3 linked regions of the Homo sapiens genome follow. The protein of the gene in region 1 interacts with the protein of each later gene in a pairwise test. Each region holds a gene or a part of one and is shown on either strand. Other genes may lie near its edges.

What was found.
Region 2: the proteins of SHISAL1 (region 1) and GYPC interact in binary tests that used the Homo sapiens proteins (3 or more experiments, as listed by UniProt).
Region 3: the proteins of SHISAL1 (region 1) and CYB561A3 interact in binary tests that used the Homo sapiens proteins (3 or more experiments, as listed by UniProt).

The regions. Positions count from the first base shown.
Region 1 is NC_000022.11:44,309,239-44,318,157, reverse strand, and holds the start of SHISAL1 (protein shisa-like-1 precursor), read left to right. Parts: upstream 1-5,206; 5' UTR 5,207-5,407; intron 5,408-8,919.
Region 2 is NC_000002.12:126,652,005-126,660,022, forward strand, and holds the start of GYPC (glycophorin-C), read left to right. Parts: upstream 1-4,153; 5' UTR 4,154-4,259; coding exon 4,260-4,308; intron 4,309-8,018. UniProt on the Homo sapiens protein: This protein is a minor sialoglycoprotein in human erythrocyte membranes. The blood group Gerbich antigens and receptors for Plasmodium falciparum merozoites are most likely located within the extracellular domain.
Region 3 is NC_000011.10:61,347,440-61,352,045, reverse strand, and holds the end of CYB561A3 (lysosomal membrane ascorbate-dependent ferrireductase CYB561A3), read left to right. Parts: intron 1-898; coding exon 899-1,055; intron 1,056-1,623; coding exon 1,624-1,647; 3' UTR 1,648-2,402; coding exon of another isoform or gene 2,403-2,489; 3' UTR 2,490-3,241; downstream 3,242-4,606. Other genes in the region: TKFC (triokinase/FMN cyclase), read right to left, coding at 3,839-4,021. UniProt on the Homo sapiens protein: Transmembrane reductase that uses ascorbate as an electron donor in the cytoplasm and transfers electrons across membranes to reduce iron cations Fe(3+) into Fe(2+) in the lumen of the late endosome and lysosome.

The sequences.
Region 1 (8,919 bases):
GAGAGGACTCTCGGGATAGAGGCTTGTCTGCCCTGGACTTCCCCGCCCCCACGGTGGGCTCCTGGATGGGCTGGACTGGGTCGGGGGGCAGCCAGCCTGAATGTGGGGCCTTCCCCTGGAGGGGCTTCTCTCTGCCCCTCGGTCCCTGCTCCCTCTCAGGCCCCTTGGTGTCAGGAGGCTGCAGTGGCAGAGCCCAGCTCGGGAAGGTCAGAGGGCCCCGTGCTCAGCAGACAGGGCAGACATGTTCATTAGCCATCCTGTTGCTTCCAAAGTGCAAACTCAGTATCAGAACAGATCTCTAGTTTGGGGACGACTAAGCAGAGAAGGATTCAACAGAAAGTGGAGCCTGGTGCTTGCTATGCTGCGGGGGAGGACGGAGAGGACTTGGGGAGTCTGTGTCTGAAGCGGACACAGTTCTGGGTTCTAAGTCTGGTGTCAGGGGGTCTGCCCTCCTTGCCTTCCCCAACAATGCACCATCCAGTGGTTTATTCTTCCTGGGGGTTCGGCCCCCATGGGAACAGCCCACAGAGCAAGGCAGCAAACCTGAGACCAGAGACCACAGGGCCAGGGCAGCTGAGAAGTCCACCTGGCGGCACAGCAGGTTTGGGGTGTTGGGGCCACAGGCATGGAGGCAGATGAGGTGGGAGGAGGCTGTTGTCTGTTCACATCTGGGCCTAGGAAAGCTGATGGGGCCAGCAAGGGTTTGCAAGGGCTCAAGAAGGCAGCCGAGAGCCACTTCCTACCACCTTTGAAAGCACCTGTTTCCCTCGCTGTCCAGCCATTGCCGCCAGGGAGTCCTCCTGGGCGCGGACCGCCCCGAGTAAGGACAGGCCTGGCTTGCTGCGGGCCGGTGTGGCTGGCCGGGCCCTGCTCGTCGGTGCAGCAGCTGATCCATTCGAGAGGCACGTCCTTCCATCCTGGCCCGGCTCTCGGAGCTGAATCGCACCCGCCCAGCAGCTTCCATGCCAATTACACAGAGTGTGGGTGGGAGGCTCATTAACCCCCAGAAGTGGAACTGGTCCAGGGAGTGGTGAGGATGGACAGGGGCCCTCCAGCCGACGATGGGGGGTTAAGCGTGCCAGGTCAGGGGTTGGGGAGCTGGCTCAGCACCATCCCTGTGGTCTCCACTGCAGCTCTATTTGCATAATTTTGAAGTTGATTGGCCTAAAGGCAACTTCGCTTAATCACAGCTGACAAGTCTCTGGTTGAAACAGCAGCTGCTGCCAATTAGCCGCGTTGGTGCTTTGGTTTGTTATAACTCTCTAGGCAGCAACCCCCAGCTCCCCCTCCTGCCCGCCCCATAATCTGCTTCAGAAGGAAGTGGCAGGGCCAGGTAGCTGCCCAGAGAACCTGCCACATGCTCCAGCCCAGGTCTTCTCAGACTTGCAGGTGCTGGGGAATGGGTTAGCGCGCAGCCTCTGATTCAGCCGGAAGGGTGGCGCGAGAGCCTGCATTTCCAACAGCTCCCGGGAGATGCCAGGGTTGCTGGTTTGTGGGCTGTGCTTGGGGTAGCAATGATCTCACCCAGAAGTTTGCAAACTGGGGCTGCCTGTTTGTGTGAATAAAGTTTTATTGGAACACACCATCACTCATTCATGTAGGATTCTCTACAGCTCTTTTTTGTCTATAACTGCAGAGTGGACAAAGACTGGGTGGCTTGCAAAGCTGGCCCAGCAGCTCTTCCTTGAGTGGGCATCAGAACACCCTGGAAAGCTGGGAGAGATGCAAATCCTTTGCCCCCCCACCCCCCACCCTGGTTCTGATCCAACAGGTCTGTGCAGCCCTGGTGCAGCCACTTCCGGGGATCTCTCTGTTCATCCTGGCCTACCCTGGGTACCATTCCCATTAGATAGCTGGGGAAACTGAGGCTCAGAGTGGTCACTCACTTGTCCGAGGTCCCAAGCTAGTAAGATCTGGCCGATTCCCACCACATCCTGCATCCTTGACCCAGGTCCCTCTCCCCAGGGTGCACCACGTCCCAACTGGGTTCCCTGGCTTGGTCTGCTCCAAATCTGGATTCCACGTGGGGGCCTGCTATTTGTAACCTTGGGCAAGTCACAGAATGACATGTCCTGTTGCAGGAGCATGATGTGTGGGAGACCAGGTCTGTCACGGGCACTGCAGAGAGCACTTGGCCCCTGGGGGGTTATCATTGCCCTGCTCCACATCGATATGGGCGGTTTACACTGTGCAATGCCTCTCCCCTCCCTGCCCCGGACTGTGAATCCTTTGAGGGCCAGGATGGAGACCCATCCTGCCATTGCGGAATCACCTGAGGCCGGGGAACTGCTGCCTGTGAGCCTATGAAGGAGGCAGCAACTCCCCAGCAGTGGCTCAGGCAGGGCCCTGCGTGTTCTTCATCTCAGTCATCCTCCCCTTGACCTGGAGGGGCCAGGATGGAGGCATGGCACCATCCACAAAGGAAGAAACCAAGCCTCCTCGAGGCAGGTGACCCGCCAGGCAGGTAACAACAGCGTAAGAAGCAGCATTGGGATTCTGTGGCCCAGGTGACATGGGGCCACCAGCTCAGTTCCAAACATGGAAATATAGGAGGATGTTATATGGCCTGGTGTCCTCAGTTTATAGATGGGGAAACTGAGGCACAGAGAGTTTATAACTGGGAGGGTCTCAAAGGGACGAGGTGTATGTGGGCTCAGTAGGAGGAGGCTGGGAATTCACACCGATTCCCTACTGGAATTGGACAGTTCCGGCACCACACCCAGCAGCCTGGGACTGTGAACCGGAAAAAAACGCTCCTTTCTCAGGGACCCCCAGCCAGGCCAAAGCAGCTTCTGCAGTCCCCACCCAGGCCCCTGTGTGGGTCTCAGCTGCCCAGAGGGGTGGGCCTGTGTGCAATGGATGGGGGCTGGGGGGTACTGTAATCATTATTTTTCTTTACATATATTTTGAACCTTGATTTTCTATTCTATTTTCCAGACTCCAGGCCATGGAGTCAGGCCCATGTCTCTGCCTGCTTCCTGGTATTCGCCCTCGGCAGTCCTTGCCAAGACTTCTTTATTTACTTGTTTGTTTGTTAATAATATAAGAAACATCCTTGACCCATCCCTCAGCCTGAGAGCAGGAACGTCAGCCTGTGCGCTCCCAAGCAGGGCCCACTTCACCCCACGTCCCGCTGTATGCCTTGCTATAGCCAGATGCACTCTCAAAAAGAACATTTTATTTACAGTTCTTTTTAGCCTTCTAGAAAGCGTACTGTGCTGAACTTCATCTTTGGAGACTTTACTTTCTCTCTAGCCTCATAGCGCTGAGATGCCCCGTAATGTTCTGTGCGGCTGCAGTGCATTTGGGTAGCTGAAGAGTGTTCCGGTGTTTGGCCATAACACCATGCATTTTCCTATTCATCCACTGGGCCGTCTCCAGGGCTGTCTCCAGGTTTTTCCATAGCGCCGCTGTGAGCTTTCTAGAGCCTGGTCCCCTCGGCCGAGAGGGGATGTTGGTGCTTTTCCTCCCCCACAGTTGCTGAGGCAAAGACCCACTGTGCAAGAGGATGTGGTCACAGTGGCCTCCCTGAGGTGGGGTCACCTTCCCTCCAGGCAGCCCTCACCCCGGTCTGCCAGGCAGGTTGGTCTTTGTTGTGCTTCCAACCTCTGTCAAAGGTGAACTTTTAAAATTCCTGCCTCGTAGGGTGGATCGCAAGGAGTAAATGTCATTGGCGGACCCATACTTTTCTATGTCATAGGTGTTCCAGATCTGGTGCACAGGAGGTCTGCTTTGAACTATAACAAAATCCACAGGGCAGTCCAGGCTCAGAGAGACAGAGAAACATGCCCAGGATCACACAGCTGAGAAGCGGCAAGGGACTTGAACCCGTGTTCAAACCCCAAGCTCAGAGCCCTTTTGTTTCTCTGCTGCTATGCTGAGCCCCAGACAAGAGGCAGGAGGAACTTTGTGTGCCTTGTTCCCTCTGCCAGGAACACTCCCCCACCCCCACCCCCGCCCCACCGCCCGACTCATCCTTCAGGTGTCCACACCAGACCCCCTGGTCTGAGTCCCCAGCCAGGCGACCCAGGACGAGTTACTGAAACTCTGTACCTCAGTTTCCGCATCTGTAAATTGGGGATAATCACAGCCCCTCCTAATCATGAAGATTAAATAAATACCACCCCCACTCCCGGCCCCTACCCCGTCAGGCTGCATCAGGCACTCTGGGCGCCCATAGCCCCCTGGTTTCCCATCGTGGCACCCATCGCTCTGGGCTGCCATTGTTGGGACCGTGGTTAGATGAGGGGCACCCAGACCAGTCTGAACTCGCTCTCTGTCCACCGAAAGGAATGGAAAAAGGAGGTTTATTTCTGGCCTGGCTCAGGATGGGCAGGCTTCCAGGGATGGGTGGGAGGCAGAGGAGGGCTGGCCTCCTTTATGGCTGCGTTTAAATGCCACCCAGAAGCCAGCCAAGGGCGCCGCCAAGGTACCACGATGCACGAAGGCCCAGGGGTGGGAGACGGCCATGGGCTGGGGGGGTGCCTGGCACCCAGGAAGTGTGGCTGCAGAGGCCAGCCAGGCCCCTGGGCTGTGTCCAGACAGTCATGGAAGCCACTGATGTGTTTCGAACAGTGGCAGGTGTGGGCATCCCCCGCCCTGTTCCTGCCCCATCCCCACCCCATTCCTACTGGCAGGGAGGACCCTCTGCTGCTGGGTGGGGACAGGCCAGGGGTAGGGGGGCAACAGCAGGAAGATCAGCCCAGCTTGGAGTCAGGCAGGTGCCACACACCCTCTGTGGGCTCTCGGGTCCCAGCTACCCTTCCTCCCCGGGCTGGTGTGGGGACCGTTTGTTTTACCCACACCCCTCCCCGGGCCATGCTGGCCAGAGGGGCTTGTGCAGTGGTGCCACTGACCTCCATTGCCCAACAGAGACTGAGGGCCACGGGAGGGAACCCACATGTATTGTGCCAAGCATCTGCTGAGGTGCGGACCTGGAGCCCGGTGCCCTGGGTCTAAGCCCCTGCTGCTTCTAGCTGTGGGATCTCACAGGGAGTGTCTCTAGTTTGCTCACCTGTAAAATGGGGCTCTTGCTGGTGCTCTGAGGATGCACAAGGCTGTAAGACCAGAGGCTGGAGTGCGTGGGGACTGCGGGAGCAGCCGCTGCCATCCTGGGCCTGGGAGGTGGCGGCCCTAGGCCCAGGCGGGAGCTGGACTCCTGCAGGGCTGACTCAGCGCCCTAGCCCCACTCCCCGCCCTGAGGAGCACACTGAATTCTTGTCAGCACACAGAGGCCAGCCTGCGCTGGAAAACACTCTTTTGCCTATACAAGGCTCGACCAAGTTGCTCTCCTTTTATTGGGGTTTAAGGTTGGTGGCAACCAGGAGCCGGGGAAGAGGCCAGCAGCTGCAGGGAGACCGCAGCCAGCGGAGGGGGCTTCTGATCCCTCAGTCACAGGGCTCGGCAGGTAAGGAGCAGCCTGTGGAGGTTTCCAGGTCCTCACTGTGCAGGGGCACCTCTGTTCCTTCACGCTGACCCTGGGGTCCCTGCCCTGGCTAAGCACTGGGTCTAAGGGAGAAGCCAGGCAAGGCTGCTAAGTGACTCCTAGTCACAGAAGAATGGGAGGGGCCGGGGTGACGGCTATGCCAGTGGGGCAAGATGGGGAGCAGGCTCTGATCTAGAGGGGTGGGAGCCCTGTGGGGGTGCACAGATGCTGGTGCTACTACCTACCTGCTGTGTGACCTTGAGCAAGTTGCTGACCGTCTCTGTGCCTCAGTGTCCTTGTGTCAAGAGCCTTGCATAGAGAGGGGTTGGAGAGAAGGCCAAAGGCTCGGGGGAGGGTCCGGCATGGCCTAGGGAGTGCTCTCAGGATGCCCTAGTCATGGCCTGGAGGGCATTTGGTTGGCTTCACGGGGGTGAGGTGGGTCTGTTCGACCCACTTCAGAGTCTGCAGTCCCAGTCCAGCATCACACCGGTACGAAATAAGTGAATAGATGAATGAATGAATGAATGAACGAACAAATGAATGCATTGGCCCCTCCGAATACGCCTTCAAGGCAGGTTTGTTGTCCCCATTTACAGATTGGGAAACTGAGGCTTAGGGCTTTGGCTTCTCTTCACTCCAGTGAGGAAGGGGTTCTGGGGACCAGGGAGGCTGAGGGAGCTGAAGAGAAACCCAGAGCCACCCCCACCCCGAGGCGAGCGCCATGCCTGTCTTTCCTCTTCCTGCCCTGACACTTTAAGTGATTCATTCTTCATGTGATATTTTTGTGTTTCTCCAGTGGGAAAAAAATGCCTCTGGGATTTCCAGGGGTTGTTTTATCTCCATGGTGCAACCAAATAACTCAGGAGGACAGAGAGAAACAAAGGGTTGTTGAGCTGAAGAAGGCCCATGATTGTCTCGGCCAAGCTCTCCCTTTAATAGGGGAGGAAACTGAGTCTGGCCTGAGCCCCTCGCCCTGTGACCCAGTGTGGCCCCCTGGAGGACAGTGGGGCATCTAGGGCCTTCAGCAGGGTTGGGGTTTCCAGCTAAGCCCCTTTCAGCTGTGTGTTCTCGCTCAAGTCCCCCTTTCCCCAGGCCTCAGCTTCCTCATCTGTAAAATGGGATCACAGTGGTGCCTACTTCCAACATTCGAGACAGTAGCACATGCAGAGAACTTTGATGGGTGCAGAACTGGCCCAGGCCAGGGGCTCAAAAGGGGGAACCATTGAAACAGCTGAGTTTGTAACTTGGACTCAGAGCCCAGCTGGCTGGGGCATGGTGGATTCAGCAGGGAAAGGTGTCAGTGAGGGACAAGAGCCTTATTAGGGATACACTGGAATGGTTATCCACTGAGGGAGGGATCTGGGGAGATAGGAGAGGTTTCCACGTTGGAGGTCACCTGCGTGCCTTCCCAATTCCAGCACCCAGGCCAGCACCCTTCGTGGCAGTGTGCTTCTCCTCGTGGCCCTGACCCTGAGAGCAGCCCCATGGAGCAAGTGGTATGCCCGCCTGGTAGGGAGACAGTGAGGGCCCAGGGGGTGTGAGCCGGCCCACCTCAGCTCCCCTGGACTTAGGGGGACCTGTCCCACTGGAGCCCTGGAGTTGGGTTTCTAGGCTAAAATAAGGGACTTCCACCCAGGGCTGATGGCCCAAGGTCACTCCCGGTGGTGGCCGTAAAAGTTGAGGCCATGTCTCAGTTGAAGGAGATCTCCTGCCTGGATCTCTGCTGTTCCCATCTGGAAGTTTGCTCTTTGCAATAAAACAAACCAGGCCAACGAGTGCTAATGGAGTTCCTACTCTATGGCCGGCAGACATTTATTCAGCACCTACTGTGTGCAAAGCATGGTGGGGCGATGCAGAGGCACAAAATTTCCCACCCTTGAAGAGCTTGTACTAGGCAGGGAAGCAGTAAACCAACAGGTAAGGCAGAGGGAAATCCGTGCCAACTAAAGGAACAAGCAAAGCACGGAAAGATGAACTGGGGAAATCAGACGTAGACATGGAGTTCAAACACAATTTCATTTGCCAAGGGGCACACAGGACCCTCTCTGGTACCTAAACCATCAGCTTTGGGAACAGTAGAGTAGGCAACATCGGATAAGAACGGTTTATGGATCAGCTGCTAATGTTCTGGGTGCCCTGCTAGCTTCTGGTCCTTTCTATGTTTGGTATACCTGCAAGGTGTGGGGCACGGCTCCCGTTTCACAGATGAGGAAGCTGAAGCCCGTGAAGTAACTTGCCCTAGATCACCCAGCTAGTTAGTGATAAAGCTCTGATCCAAGGCCAAGGAGACTCGCTGCAAAGCCTATGTGGTCGCCCCCAGCACCCTGTCTGGAGTCGAGCAAACCTGGGTTCAGATTGCAAACCTTCCACCCTCCAGCTCTGGGCAATCACTTAGTTTCTCTGAGCTGTGGTTTATTTATCTCAGCAATGGAGATGATCATTGCTTATGTTCATTCAACCAATTAACACATGTTTATAAAGTGCCTACTACGTGTCAGGCCTGTGCTGCCCATAGAGATGAGCAAAAACGAAATGGTCTCAGCAGGGCTGGGTTCGGGGATGTGACCGCTGCAGGGCTAGGCATCAGGTCAGCAGGGCTCAGGTCACATTGGCCGTTACTAGGGTGTGAGGTGCTGGCCCTTCTCACTCACTGTCAGCCGTGGAGCCCGGCACCCCAGCTGCAGGCGAACGGGCTGCTTCTCTGTCCTTCTCCAGCCATACACTCTGGCTGCCTCGGTCCTGGCCAGCACAGCGAGGAAAGATGTCCTAGTTCTCTCCTGCCGCTTCCCCCTGCAAGCATGAAGGGGTCACAAAGACATGCTTTGATCTCACTTCATATGCAGGCGTGGAGCCTCGAGAAGTGTTTATTCCTGGACTTCACGTTTCAGAGTGAGATTTCATAACCTCTAAGTGGATGTCCTGAAAACAAAAGTTCACAAACTCAGGATTAGGTCTGCACTGCCGAGGAAAGGCCCTGGAGACTGGGAAACTTGTGGAGGTTAAACATCCCTGATGATACATATGTGCACACGTGTGTACATGTGTGTGCTGTGTGGAGACAGGCATGCACACAAGTGCTGCCTGCAGGGGTAAACACTCTTATGAGTCGTGGAGACAGGGCACAGGAGCAGACCCCGGGGTTTGAGTCCCCTCTCCGAGCCCCACATTCTCCATCTGTGTAACAGAGAGACTGAGGGTGCAGCATAGGGCTGGGTGGGAAGGGAACGGGTGAGGAATGGGGAGCATTGGGCACCGTGCTCTGCCCTGGGCTCGGGTGATCTGCAGCTGCTAGCCCGTCTCCTCGTCTGTACTTCCTGCCCTTCTGCTGGGCCGCTGCCTACCCGCAGGACTGTTGGTGGGGCTCCAGAGAGCCCTGCCCTGTTGAATTACTAATCCGTGCTAATGCTACCACTGCTAATCATCGTGCCCACATAGAATTACTCATCATTACGTAATCTACTGTCTGTGACCGCCTCCCCCCAGGCTGTAAGCCT
Region 2 (8,018 bases), on another chromosome or scaffold:
AGAGGGACAGAACTAATAGGATCTGTATATATATATATAGTGTGGAGCTTATTAAGCATTAGCTTACATGATCACAAGGTCCCACAATAGGCTGTCTGCAAGCTGAGGAGCAAGGAGAGCCAGTCCAAATCCCAAAACTGAAGAACTTGGAGTCTGATGTTCCAGGGCAGAAAGCATCCAGCACGGGTGAAAGATGTAGGCTGGGAGGCCAGACCCATCCCTCCTTTTCATGTTTTTCTGCCTGCTCTATATTCCCTGGAAGCTGGTTAGATGGTGCCCACTAGATTAAGGGTGGATCTGCCTTCCCCAGCCCACTGACCCAAATGTTAATCTCTTTTGGCAACACTCTCATAGACATACCCAGGATTAATACTTTGTATCCTTCAATCCAATCAAGTTGACACTCAGTATTAACCATCACACCTCCAAATGAGGAAACAGTGTGAACAAAATATTCACCTAAAAGAAGCTGTGATTTGTAAATAAGCAACTGACAGCATATTCGGCCTCTCTGGTAATCAAAGAAAATGCTGACACAAATAACTATGTATGTTTCTTTTCTATGGAATTAACTATGATTTTAAGTTTGCTGTTTAATTCTGGCAAGAGACTCTGAGATAAACACTGGTACTCTTGATTGGGAAGAAAGTAAAGGTCACAGCCAGAACTTATGAATGTATCAAAAGCTTTAAATGCATTTGTAACCTTTGATTGAGTAATTCTGCTTGTCAGAATATACCCTAAGGAAAAAATTATGAAATCCAGATATTTATGTTCATATGGTTATCACAGCACTATTCAACCAGCAAAGAAAATGAAACAACCTAGTAATTAAAATGAGTTAAAGAGCTTTTCTACTTTTACATGAGAAAATGCTCATGACATAATGTTTAGTAGTAAAAGCTCAGCACTTGAAATCACGTATTCAGTAAAATCTCAAGAGTATAAAGCAAATATTCGTAAATGCATAAAAAAGACTAAAGGTAAATAACCTTAATGTGCTGGAGATTGCAAGCAATTCTTAGGGTTTAGGTATCTTTTTGGCTTTTTCTTTTTTATTTTTTCTTTTTGCACAAAGAGCATGTGTTACTGTGATGAGGGGCAAAACCTTTCATTAAAGGCCCAAGCAACATCTACCTACCACCATCTGTAAGGGCTCACCCAGGAGACAGCAACAGCAGCAGGGGACCGCCAACTCCACTCCCAATAAGGAACTAGCACTGAGGATTTGGAAGGCAGTTTCCCATGAGCAGTTTCTTCCCTGAAGAGGAAGAGAAAATTCATCTCCAGGACTGGATCATACCATCTCACATCTTGGAGGGCTCTGCAGCTTGTATCAGCCACAGACAGTCAATGAAGACACAGCTAGAACCGTCCATCCCGGCTGCACTGCAGAGCAAGTTCTTGTCACTGTGCTGAACTTCTGGGTTCTCATCTTTACAATGGACTCTTGGCAATACTCCGTTTAAGAGTATTTATGGGAACTAGACAAGATAAGAACTGGTTTATTATTGCAAGATATAGCTGAGTTTTTTTTTTAACTTCATTAATAAATATCCAACACATGAAGACACACTAATAATACATTTCTTGACTTATGTCAGACTGTTACCATATAATTAAATTTTTCACATAATTATTTTCCCTTCTTAAGAGTCATTTATTTAACATTAGACACTTTCATAGTTAAATTTTCTAAAATATGTCAAATGTTTCCCTGTTAGCTAATTTGCTACACACTAAGACACACTATTTACTTTCTTTTTCAAATGACTTGGGGTCCTTACTATGAACAAAGTATGTGTTAGAGGAGGAAGGGGGCCAATATCTTTAAGTAACTCCAGTGTACTCTCATTGTAATTACCTCTTTAATTATTATCGAATATATTACTCACAACAGCCTAACTTTGCAGATTGCTCCAATTTCCAGGCTGAGAAAAATGAGGCTCAGAGAAAGAAAGTGAAATGCTGAAGGTTACGCAGCTAGTAGGCAGTAGAGTAACTAACCCAGATTGAGTTCCAAAGCCCTGTGGTCTTTAATAGCGCAAGGAACTGTCACATCCTCCAGTGATGGCTGGAGCTGAGATTGCTTTAGTTCTGTAACAAATGCTACTTCGTTCTTGTATCTGACCTCTGCAGTTTGTGGGGCTTTCAATTTTCACTGTTTAGTTCGTTAGTTTATTAATTTTTGGCTTATTTTCTGTAAGGAATTCTCTGCAACATTTTGATGCCTTCAACCTGTCTTACCCTAAGAAATTAAGGAAATCTCTTATGATTACGTCTAAGGCCAGTAGGTTCTAAATGAGTCTGTAAAAGTGACTTCTCTAAGTGTGCTGCAATGACCTAATGACTTGTCCGTTGTTACCTGGCAGAACTTTCTGCTTCTTTCCAACTTTCCAGCTGCATTTCAGATAATTAAAGTTATTTTCTCTCAGGACAGAGGAGCGGGACTACTGTTCCACGTAGACGTATGTGTATGTATTACCAAAAAAAAAAGTTAAACTGTTAAAGTAATCACGGGTGCAGTGGCTCACGCCTGTAATCCCAGCACTTTGGAAGGCCAAGGTGGGTGGATCACCTGAGGTCGGGAGTTCGAGACCAGCCTGACCAACATGGAGAAACCCCGTCTCTACTAAAAATACAAAATTAGCCAGGCGTGGAGGCACATGCTGGTAATCCCAGCTACTCGAGAGGTTGAGGCAGGAGAATTGCTTGAACCCAGGAGGCGGAGGTTGTGGTGAGCCGAGATCACGCCGTTGGACTCCAGCCTGGGCAACAAGAGCAAAAACTCCGTCTCAGAAAAATAAATAAATAAATAAATAAAAATAAATTAATCATTACTCATTGCTGTTTATTAAATGCCTTTTCTGTTCCCACTGTGATTCTACAATCACTGCCTCTGTAAAACCCCGGAATGCAGGTGTTCTTGCCTCCATTTTATAGATGAGGAAATCAAGACTCAGGGCTTCCCCACCAGGCCAAAGGCATTCTGTGAGTAGTTTATTTCAATTCAACATGGCTGTGCTGCACATGGCAGTTGGAGTAAAGATCTATCAGCATCGGGGGTTCTTCATGATCTAACTAAAGTGAATCATGAGTGCTTTCCCACTGCGTCAAGAAGGCCTGGAGTTTGTGCAGCCCGGCTAGAGGTGAGCAAAGCCTCTGTGTTGCAAATCTCCAGGGCGCAGCCTCTCATTGTATTCAATGCAGATGACAGTCCCAAAGGCACCGCCCATACATTGTACAGACAGCTGGCCTGGCTCTCCGGATTGTGCAGGATAGGCCTTAATGGCAGAAGGTAGGGGAGAGGTGGGCGTCACAAAAGTGCTTGGGGAACTATAAAGTAAACAATGAAAAGCAGCACAGGAAGGTTCAGACATCACACAGGAGAAGCACAGGGTGTTCCCCTGGGTGGGGATTTAAAACAAGGGCCTCAAGTTCCCTGCCCTTGTCTCTGGGCAGAAGGGGCAGATAATGCTATGATACATTTTTTGTAGGTGGTGCCATTTGACTGCATTTAACCAACAAAGGTATGTATCGAAATCCACGTGGAGATTTTCATGGCAAAAGTAGAGCGAATTCACAAACTGCACTGTGTCTGGCAGCTTCAGACAAAAGCAATGGGAACAAATCACGACTCTTGTCCAGCAATTCTTCCTGTTTTGGAATGATCTTTGCTCAACAGCCCATCCATGAGTACAGGGCCCCCAAAGGCCAACAAGACAGGGACTCTCTCCAGGGACAAATGCCCCGCAGCTGAGAGAGGCCGCCCAGCTATCCAGCGGCCGCGCAGCCAGCCAAGATTTCAACACAGGTCTGCCCTATTTGGTCACCATCCCCGACAGTGCTGGGCCAGGCCATCATGTCACATTGGGGAGTTTTCCCTGCACTCCAGGGGGAATTCTCAACCACAACCTCTGTATCCGGTAGTGGCAGATGGAAAGAGAAACGGTTAGAAAAGCGTGGTTCTTGCGCAGGAAAGTTGGAGCAAAGAAGAGTTCAGAAGTGGGCGGGTGTGTGTTTAAAAAAAAAAAAGGGGGTGGAAACCCCACCAGCCAAGTCTGCAGAAAAAAAATAAATGAAGTCTGCCTATCTCCGGGCCAGAGCCCCTCCCCTCGGCCCGCGCGGGAGGAGTGTGACCCAGGTGCCGCTTCCTCTCGCCGCCGAGGGTCAGGAGCCCGGGAGCGCGACCCTCCCCCGGCCCGGCCTGGCCCGGCCTGGCCAGTCCCCGCGGTCTCTGCCCGGGCTGACGCCCAGGAATGTGGTCGACGAGAAGCCCCAACAGCACGGCGTGGCCTCTCAGCCTCGGTGAGTACCCGCCGTGGGGAAGGGTCCTGGGGACCCACTGGAGGCCGCGGCCCGCAGCAGCCAGGGGCCGAGCCACGGCCACGGACGCCCTGGTGTCCCGGTCCGTGCCGGGCCTCCAGGCGGAGGAGGCGTCCGCTGGGCTCAGATCCCCGACTCCAGCCCCGGTTCCCCGGCGCCTGGGCTGCGCGGAGTCCCTGTCCCGCGTCCCGGACCCCTACGCGCAGCCTCCACGCGCTCCGAGCTGGAGAAGCCGCCAGCCCGCCCTCCCAGGGCGTGTCGCCCGCTTTCTGTTTCTTTGTGCGGGGCATGTGAAATGTGTGGGGCCAGAATTGTCTCCCTAAAGAACAGTTAGGTGAGAGTTCACATCACAAGTTGCTTCTGTGCTGCTCCCCAGCCAGGGTCCGACCGGCCAGGCTCCGGTGAACTCCAGGCAACTCCAGCCTTGCCCAGGGACTTGCTCGCTCCGCTGGGCGCCGCAAAGGCACACAGATGCGAGGGAATCCTGCGGCCTGGATCCTTTGGGGATTTGTAATTCCTCGCTGCTGGTTTTCTCTTTTAAACCATCACGTTTTCTTGCTGAGAGGAAATCATCTGTGATGAAAGTCTTTGTAGATGCTTGGAAACATTGCTGGGCCTCTCTCTGCCCTCTTCCTCTGCCGTTGGACTTTTGCAATAAAAACTACCATTTGATTTTACCAAAAAACGTAATGTACATCCCTCTTACCCCCACCCTGCCGCGGTCTGATTCTTAGAGTCTGTCAGAGAGGAGATACCCTGAGCCTATCATGTGACAATGATACCTTATTGATATGATAATGATATGGGTATTGGAGACACCAACTCTTTTATAAGTCTTTGAAATCCAGGGGGTTGTGAGGCCTCACCCCTCACCCCGCCTGAGCTTGGAGCTTGGCGTGGAGGAGTGCTGCTTCGGTCTACGTGTGTACACGGCACTCCATGTGCCTGTGGTTGTGCTTGCGTCAGCCTGGGAGTGCGCAGGCATCAGTGGTGCTTGGGAGCGAGGCCCCTCAGTCTGCACTGGGATCATCTGCACTGCCTATAAACAAGGCAGCCTCTCTTAGCTCCAGTTTCCTCATCTGCAAAGTAGGAAAGTAGGAATAATAACAGGAGATAACTCATCCAGCAGCACGAAGTGCGTATAAATGTCCCGGCACGGAGTCTGACACATCCTAAGTGCTGGATCCGTGCTGGGCATGTTTATATAATTGCACATGAGACTGTGGTTCCCGGAGCACGTAACTTGAGCATATGTTTATGTGTGTGTATACGGCAGGTCCTGGGTTAAAGGGACAGGAGCCACTGTCATTATTCCAATTCAGTCACTGAGGAGGTGAGGCTGAGAGGCATTCTCATGTCTGAAGAGGATGGGCTTGCCTGACCCCCGCCCCCGTGCCCAGCCCAGCCCAGCAGCCCAAGCAGTTCTCCAGGACTCAGGTTTCAGACCTTCAACACTTGCCTTGGGAGACAAACAGCGGTGCAGCCCTTGCTTGCAAGCCATTCCACATTAGACTTCGGATTGATTTATGGCAGGATCCCTGCTGTGCGAGAACTGCAGGGGGGGTGGGGGGCGGCTATTTCTTGCTGCTAACTCAGGCAGGATGTGTCTATATCCTGTCTCAGTTTATGTAGCTGCTCATCAGAGCCAGAGGTTAGAGCGGAGAGGACCCACTTCCGCCAGGCCGGCCTGCTCTGCTCAGCTCAGCTGGGCTAGGCCCCAATGCCACAGTTACTGCGCGTGAGTCATGCACAGCAATCCATTGCCTTGCCCTTGGATGGAAGGGGTCAAGGCTCAGTGAGAAGACGGCCAGGTTTGGCAGCTTTATATAGAATTCACCGCCTCTGGCAGAAGCAGAGGATTGCATTAAGTGCCAAATGAAATTCCACCTCAGCCATTGCTCAATTCCTCCAGATGTCACTGGCACTGGGAGTCACATGATGCTGGTGGTCAGCAGCTGGACCCTTCCAAGGGTGCCCGTGGTTGGGCAAGTATTTCTGGGGACTTGCAGAGCTCCCTGGGGAGCAAAGGGTTGTGAAGTACAAGGCATTCTGCGCTTGTGGTGGGAACAAGTGAACCCATCTGCAGTGAGTAGGAAGAGGTCCCCTCAACAGAGGTGAGAGGTTGGGCCAAGTCAAGTCAGTTTGCCTCTTCAGGTGGCAGACCTGTATGTACATCTATGCCTCAAGTGCCTGTCTGAGGCCACAGCCAAAACATCTTCCAGTAACTGAGCATACCCAGTGGGCCAACAAGCACGCTCTAAATACAAAACCAAACAAACAGTAAAGTTAACAGTGAATGAAGAGTTAAAAATAGGAGAAAGACACCTTCTCCCTACCTCAATGGCAATTACTTTATTTATTGAGGATAATCCTTCTAGAAGTAAATTTGCTGATACAAATATTTCTTATTTTACATAATAAAAATGCATTTTATATATTTTACTTCATCTTGTTTTTTTTCCATCAGAATATCTCTTAAAGGTTATACCTTGTTATTTTCTTTAATCAGTTCCTCTGCTGATGGGCATTTAGGCTGTATGCAGACTTCATTTAATTTTTTTAAACCACACACAGCAGTCCTGTGACAATGAGTAAGGAGGATTTTACATGCATGTGTCTGTAAACTGTTAGGATAAATTCTCCCACCTCAGCATTTGATTTCTGGGACAAAGTGTGTATTCATTTAAAATGTTAGTAGATCTTAAGAAACTACCCTCCTAAAGGTCACACCGGTTTCTCATGCTCACAAATAGCCTATGAAAGTCACTATTTCCCTGCGTCCTCACTCACACTGCATTTTTTATCTTGGCCAAACTGAGAGGTAAAACAACAAAACAAACGCTGTCACTTTGGAATGAGCCTCTGTAATTAAGTGAGACTGAGCATGTTTTCTTACTTCCATAAGAGGTTGTATTACTTTTCGGGGAAGTGTCGGTTGATGCTTTTGTCCATTTCCTGTCAGCACCCCACCCCCGTGAGGAAACGTGCCCCAGAAGTGAAAGGACATGTCCTCATCACATGACGAGTGAGGGGCAGAGCAGAGGCCAGAGCAACATCCGTGCTGTGGAGTCAGCCCTGGGTTTGACTGCCCTCCAATGTTCACCAGCTTTGGGAGAGAGAGGAAATACCTCAGCACCTCAGTTTTCCCATCTGTGAGTGGGAATGATAACAGCCACTTCCCCAGAGTCACCCGAAGAGCAACAGCAGAAGGGCCTGGACCTGCTCCCAGTGGCAGAGGCTTGGGAGGTGGCTTTTGTTAGCGAAATTTATTGGAGCAAACCTGGCCTGAGGATGCTGGTAATTTCAGGAGTCACCCTCCAGACAGCTGTTGTTTTTCGCTTTTGATAAAATAACAACAAACTTAGATGCCGAGCCCTGGTAAGGGGCTTTCCTGGGTCTCCCCTGCACACCTGCTATGATAGGCATTTTCTTTTCTTTTTCTTTCTTTTCTTTTTTTTTTTTTTTTTGAGACAGAGTCTCGTGCTCTGTCACTCTGGCTGGAGTGCAGTGGTGTGATCTCAGGTCATTGCACCCTCCACCTCCTCCACCTCCTGCGTTGAAGAGATTCTCTGCCTCAACCTCCCAAGTAGCTAGGACTACCGGCATACGCCACCACACCCAGCTAATTTTTGTATTTTTTGTAGAGACTTTCGGATGAAACACCAGAGGCTCGGGGGAGATAAGCCGCCATA
Region 3 (4,606 bases), on another chromosome or scaffold:
TAAAAGGATTATTACAGCTGGGTGCCGTGGCATGCACCTGTAGTCCCAGCTACTAGGGAGGCTGAGGTGGAAGGAGTCCAGCCTGGGCAACATAGGAAGACCCTCTCTCTCTCCTTTTATCCCCCCAGCCAAGAGATAGCATCTCACTCTGTTGCCTAGGTTGGAGAGCAATGGTGTGACCATAGCTCACTGCAGCATCAAACTCCTGCACTCAAGCGATCTTCCCAATGTAGCCTCCTAAGTAAGCTAGGACTACAGGCATGGACCACCTCACCTAGCTAAGTTTTATTTTTGTAGAGACAGGATCTCACTATGTTGCACAGGCTAGTCTCCAACTCCTGGGGTAAAGCAATCCTCATGCCTTGGCCTCCCAAAGTGCTGGGATTACAAGAGTGAGCCGCTGCACCTGGCTCATTATACAAATATTTGCAGGGACTTAGAAAGGGTGTTAAAATTCAGCCGGGCGCAGTGGCTCACGCCTGTAATCCCAGCACTTTGGGAGGCCGAGGCGGGCGGATCATGAGGTCAGGAGATCGAGACCATCCTGGCTAACATGGTGAAACCCTGTCTCTACTAAAAATACAAAAAATTAGCCAGGCGTGGTGGCAGGCACCTGCAGTCCCAGCTACTTGGGAGGCTGAGGCAGGAGAATGGCGTGAACCCAGGAGGCGGAGCTTGCAGTGAGCCGAGATCGTGCCACTGCACTCCAGCCCGGGTGACAGAGCAAGACTCTGCCTCAAAAAAAAAAAAAAAAAAAAAAAGAAAGGGTGTTAAAATTCTAGATCACATATGGACCCGGGAAGGTTTTCTCACCCTCTGTTAGTGACATCGAGTCTCCCACTAGACAAAAATAGGTGGAAAAATCTCTCGAGGGCTCACATTGTTTTGTCATCTTCAGGAAAAACACCACCAGGCCATACCACAGCCTGCCCAGTGAGGCGGTCTTTGCCAACAGCACCGGGATGCTGGTGGTGGCCTTTGGGCTGCTGGTGCTCTACATCCTTCTGGCTTCATCTTGGAAGCGCCCAGAGCCGGGGATCCTGACCGACAGACAGGTATGGGTTCCAGTCCCACATTCCAGGGTGGGACAGGGCCAGGTCTAGAGAAGGATCTCCCACGAAAGGCTGGGGCCTTGACAAGAAGACTTACCCTGTGGCACAGCAGGAAACCAAGTAACTTGAGGGTGGAGTTAGGGTGGCTGATGGGGAGCACTGGTCCCAAACCAGCGCATCCCAGTGAAATGCTGGGACTCCCCAGTCTGTCCATTGGGAGACAGAATTTCCCCCCCAAATCACTGTGGTTCTGTGGGGTGAAGTGTGGCCTTATCTTCTTCCCCAAGGAAGGGCTTGACTGTGACAAGGGTGTGTGATTTCTCCTTTACCAGCCTGGGGGCTAGTCTAGTGGGATGGGTGCCTGGTGACCAGCTGAGTGCTCAGAGCAGGTCTTGATGGGATGTAGGGAGACGGGGTGTGTACCAGGCTCAGGGACTTTGGGGCTTCCCTGAGGGATTTGGTGGCTTGGATGGGGACCACCCTGCAGGCTGGGGGTCTGTCTGAACAGCTTGGGCCTGGTGTGACTCCTGCATCATGTCATTAACTCCTGGGCATCTGCCTCTCTTTCCAGCCCCTGCTGCATGATGGGGAGTGAAGCAGCAGGAAGGGGCTCCCAAGAGCTCCTGGTGGTGCAGCCTGTGCTCCCCTCAGAAGCTCTGCTCTTCCCAGGGCTCCCGGCTGGTTTCAGCAGGCGACTTTCTTCCAATGCTGGGCCCAGACTTCTTGCCTGGGTGCTGGCCTGCCCTCTCCGGCCGCTTGCTGCCTGTCTGCTTTCCTTGGTGGCTTTGCCTGGGTGCTGGGCCTGCCCTCTCCGGCCGCTTGCTGCCTGTCTGCTTTCCTTGGTGGCTTTGCCTGGGTGCTGGGCCTGCCTTCTCTGGCTGCTTGCTGCCTGTCTGCTTTCCTTGGTGGCTTTGGCTTCTGCACTCCTTGGCGTCAGCCTCTCAGGTCCTCCATTCACACGAGGTCCTCCTCGCTCTGGCCGCTCTTGCTGCTCCTGTCTGAAGAAATCAGACTGATTTCCTCTTAAGACTCCTAGGGATGTGGTGAAGAGCTGGGACTCAAGTGCAGTCCACGGTGTGAAACATGAGGGAGGTGAGGTGTCCGTCCACTTCCCCCATAAAGGTGTGCATTTCAGTTAGGCTGCCCCGCCACAGAGCAGGCTTCATCTGCTCTGCCATCCAGCCCCATCTGGATGTGAGGTGGGGTGGAGACATCATGGGGTGATTGCAGAAAGGGGGAGTGGCGGCCCACGCAGCTTCTGCTGAGGAGCTGACCGCTCTGAGCTGTTCTGTTTCGTATTGCTGCTCTGTGTCTGCATGTATTGTGACCGTGCGGCTCCACCTCTTCCAGCTGCTGCTACAGCTGAGGCCTGGATCCCGGCCTTTCCCTGTGACTTACGTGTCTGTCACCGGCAGGCAGCCCTACAAATCCTGGTGACCTGCTCTCCCAAGAACAGAGCCTGTCCCCAGATGTCCCAGTAGCGATGAGTAACAGAGGTGGCTGTGGACTTCCTCTACTTCTCCTTGCTGGATCAGGGCCTTCCTGCCTCCCGCTGGGCAGGTCTGGCCTTGCTCTCTTGGCAGGGCCCCAGCCCCTCTGACCACTCTGCAGCTCACCATGCAGCTGATGCCAAAGTTGTGGTGTCCAGTGTGCAGCAGCCCTGGGAGCCACTGCCACCTTCAGAGGGGTTCCTTGCTGAGACCCACATTGCTTCACCTGGCCCCACCATGGCTGCTTGCCTGGCCCAACCTAGCGTTCTGTGCCATGCTAGAGCTTGAGCTGTTGCTCTTCTTCAGGGGAGGAAATAGGGTGGAGAGCGGGAAGGGTCTTGCTCCTAAGTGTTGCTGCTGTGGCTTTTTTGCCTTCTCCAAAGACGCACTGCCAGGTCCCAAGCTTCAGACTGCTGTGCTTAGTAAGCAAGTGAGAAGCCTGGGGTTTGGAGCCCACCTACTCTCTGGCAGCATCAGCATCCTACTCCTGGCAACATCAGGCCAACGTCCACCCCAGCCTCACATTGCCAGATGTTGGCAGAAGGGCTAATATTGACCGTCTTGACTGGCTGGAGCCTTCAAAGCCACTGGGATGTCCTCCAGGCACCTGGGTCCCATGACCAGCTCCCCATCTCCATAGGGGTAGGCATTTCACTGGTTTATGAAGCTCGAGTTTCATTAAATATGTTAAGAATCAAAGCTGTCTTTGTTCAGGCTGCTATAACAAAAATATAATAGCCTGGGTGGCTTAAACAACAAGTGTTTATTTCTCACAGTTCTGGAGGCTATAGACATCCAAGATGAAGGCGCTGGCAAATGTGGTGTGTGGCAAGGGCCAGCTTCCTCAGAGACCATCTTCTCACCATAACCTCACATGGTGGAAAGGGCGTGAGAGCTCTCTGGGGCTCCACCCTCATAACCCCATCACCTCCCAAAGGCCCCACGTCCTAACACTACCATAGTGGGGGTGAGCCTTTCAACACAGGAATTTGGGGGGGACACAAACATTCAGTCTCTAATAACAGCCCTCTAATGAAATGATGCTGTGGTTAAATGAGTTCTGGGCCAATTTGTAAAAGCCTCAGGACAGGTCTGACCCTCACAGACCTAGGGAGGGGCCAACCGGAAGGCACCAAAGATCCACATGATCCTCTGTCTTCATGGAATGGCATGTGTGGATTCACATGCAGCTCATTTATGTGCGTGTCCTTAATAGCTAATGGCACGTGCTTATCTCACGAGGAAGGAAATTTTTCCTATTTCATAATCTGAGAAAACAAGACTCAAAAAGGGTGACTAGGTTGAGGTCACCCAGCCAGGAAATGACAGAGCTGGGATCCACAGGCCACCGTCTGAGGTCAGCCTCCTTCCCAGCTGCTGGGCGCATACTCCTGTGCACGTGGATGCCTTGTGGTCAGGGACGTATGGTGCAGCCGACAGACAGGACCCTGGGTAGAGAAGCCCAGGCACTCGGGGAGCCTGCAGCCAAATTTGGGCCAAGTAGGTGACGGGGGTTGGGAGGGCAGGAGGCTCTTTCCTACCAGCTAGTGGTAGAGCAGATGACCTGGGAGGGGCTGGGGGCCCAACCCCTGTGATAACCGTAACTCTCAGTGAGTGAGCACTTGGACTGTGCTGGGCTTTATGGCCCATCTTCATCAATTCATTTGAATCCTTTCATGTCCCCATGAGGTGGGTACCATTCTGATTTTACAGATCCCAAAGGGCTAAAAAATAGGCCTTAGCTCCTGTAGCCGGGTTAAAGCAGAATCAGATTTCAGATCATGTGTATGAGTCGACAGCCAGTGCCTTTAACCACTCCCTACCCTACATGTGTGCCAGGCATGTGCTGTTTGTCTCCACATGCATACAGTGCCCCTGCTCACCCTGGTGCCATCAGTGATCGCTCTAGAAAGAGACCTAGGGGCTGGCTTGGCTGCAGTTTCTTTTTTTTTTTTTTTTTTTTTTGAGACAGGGTCTCGCTTTGTTGCCCAGGCTGGAGTATAGTGGCATGCTTATGGCTCACCGCAGCCTCGACCTCCTGGGCCCAAGCCATCCTCCCAACTC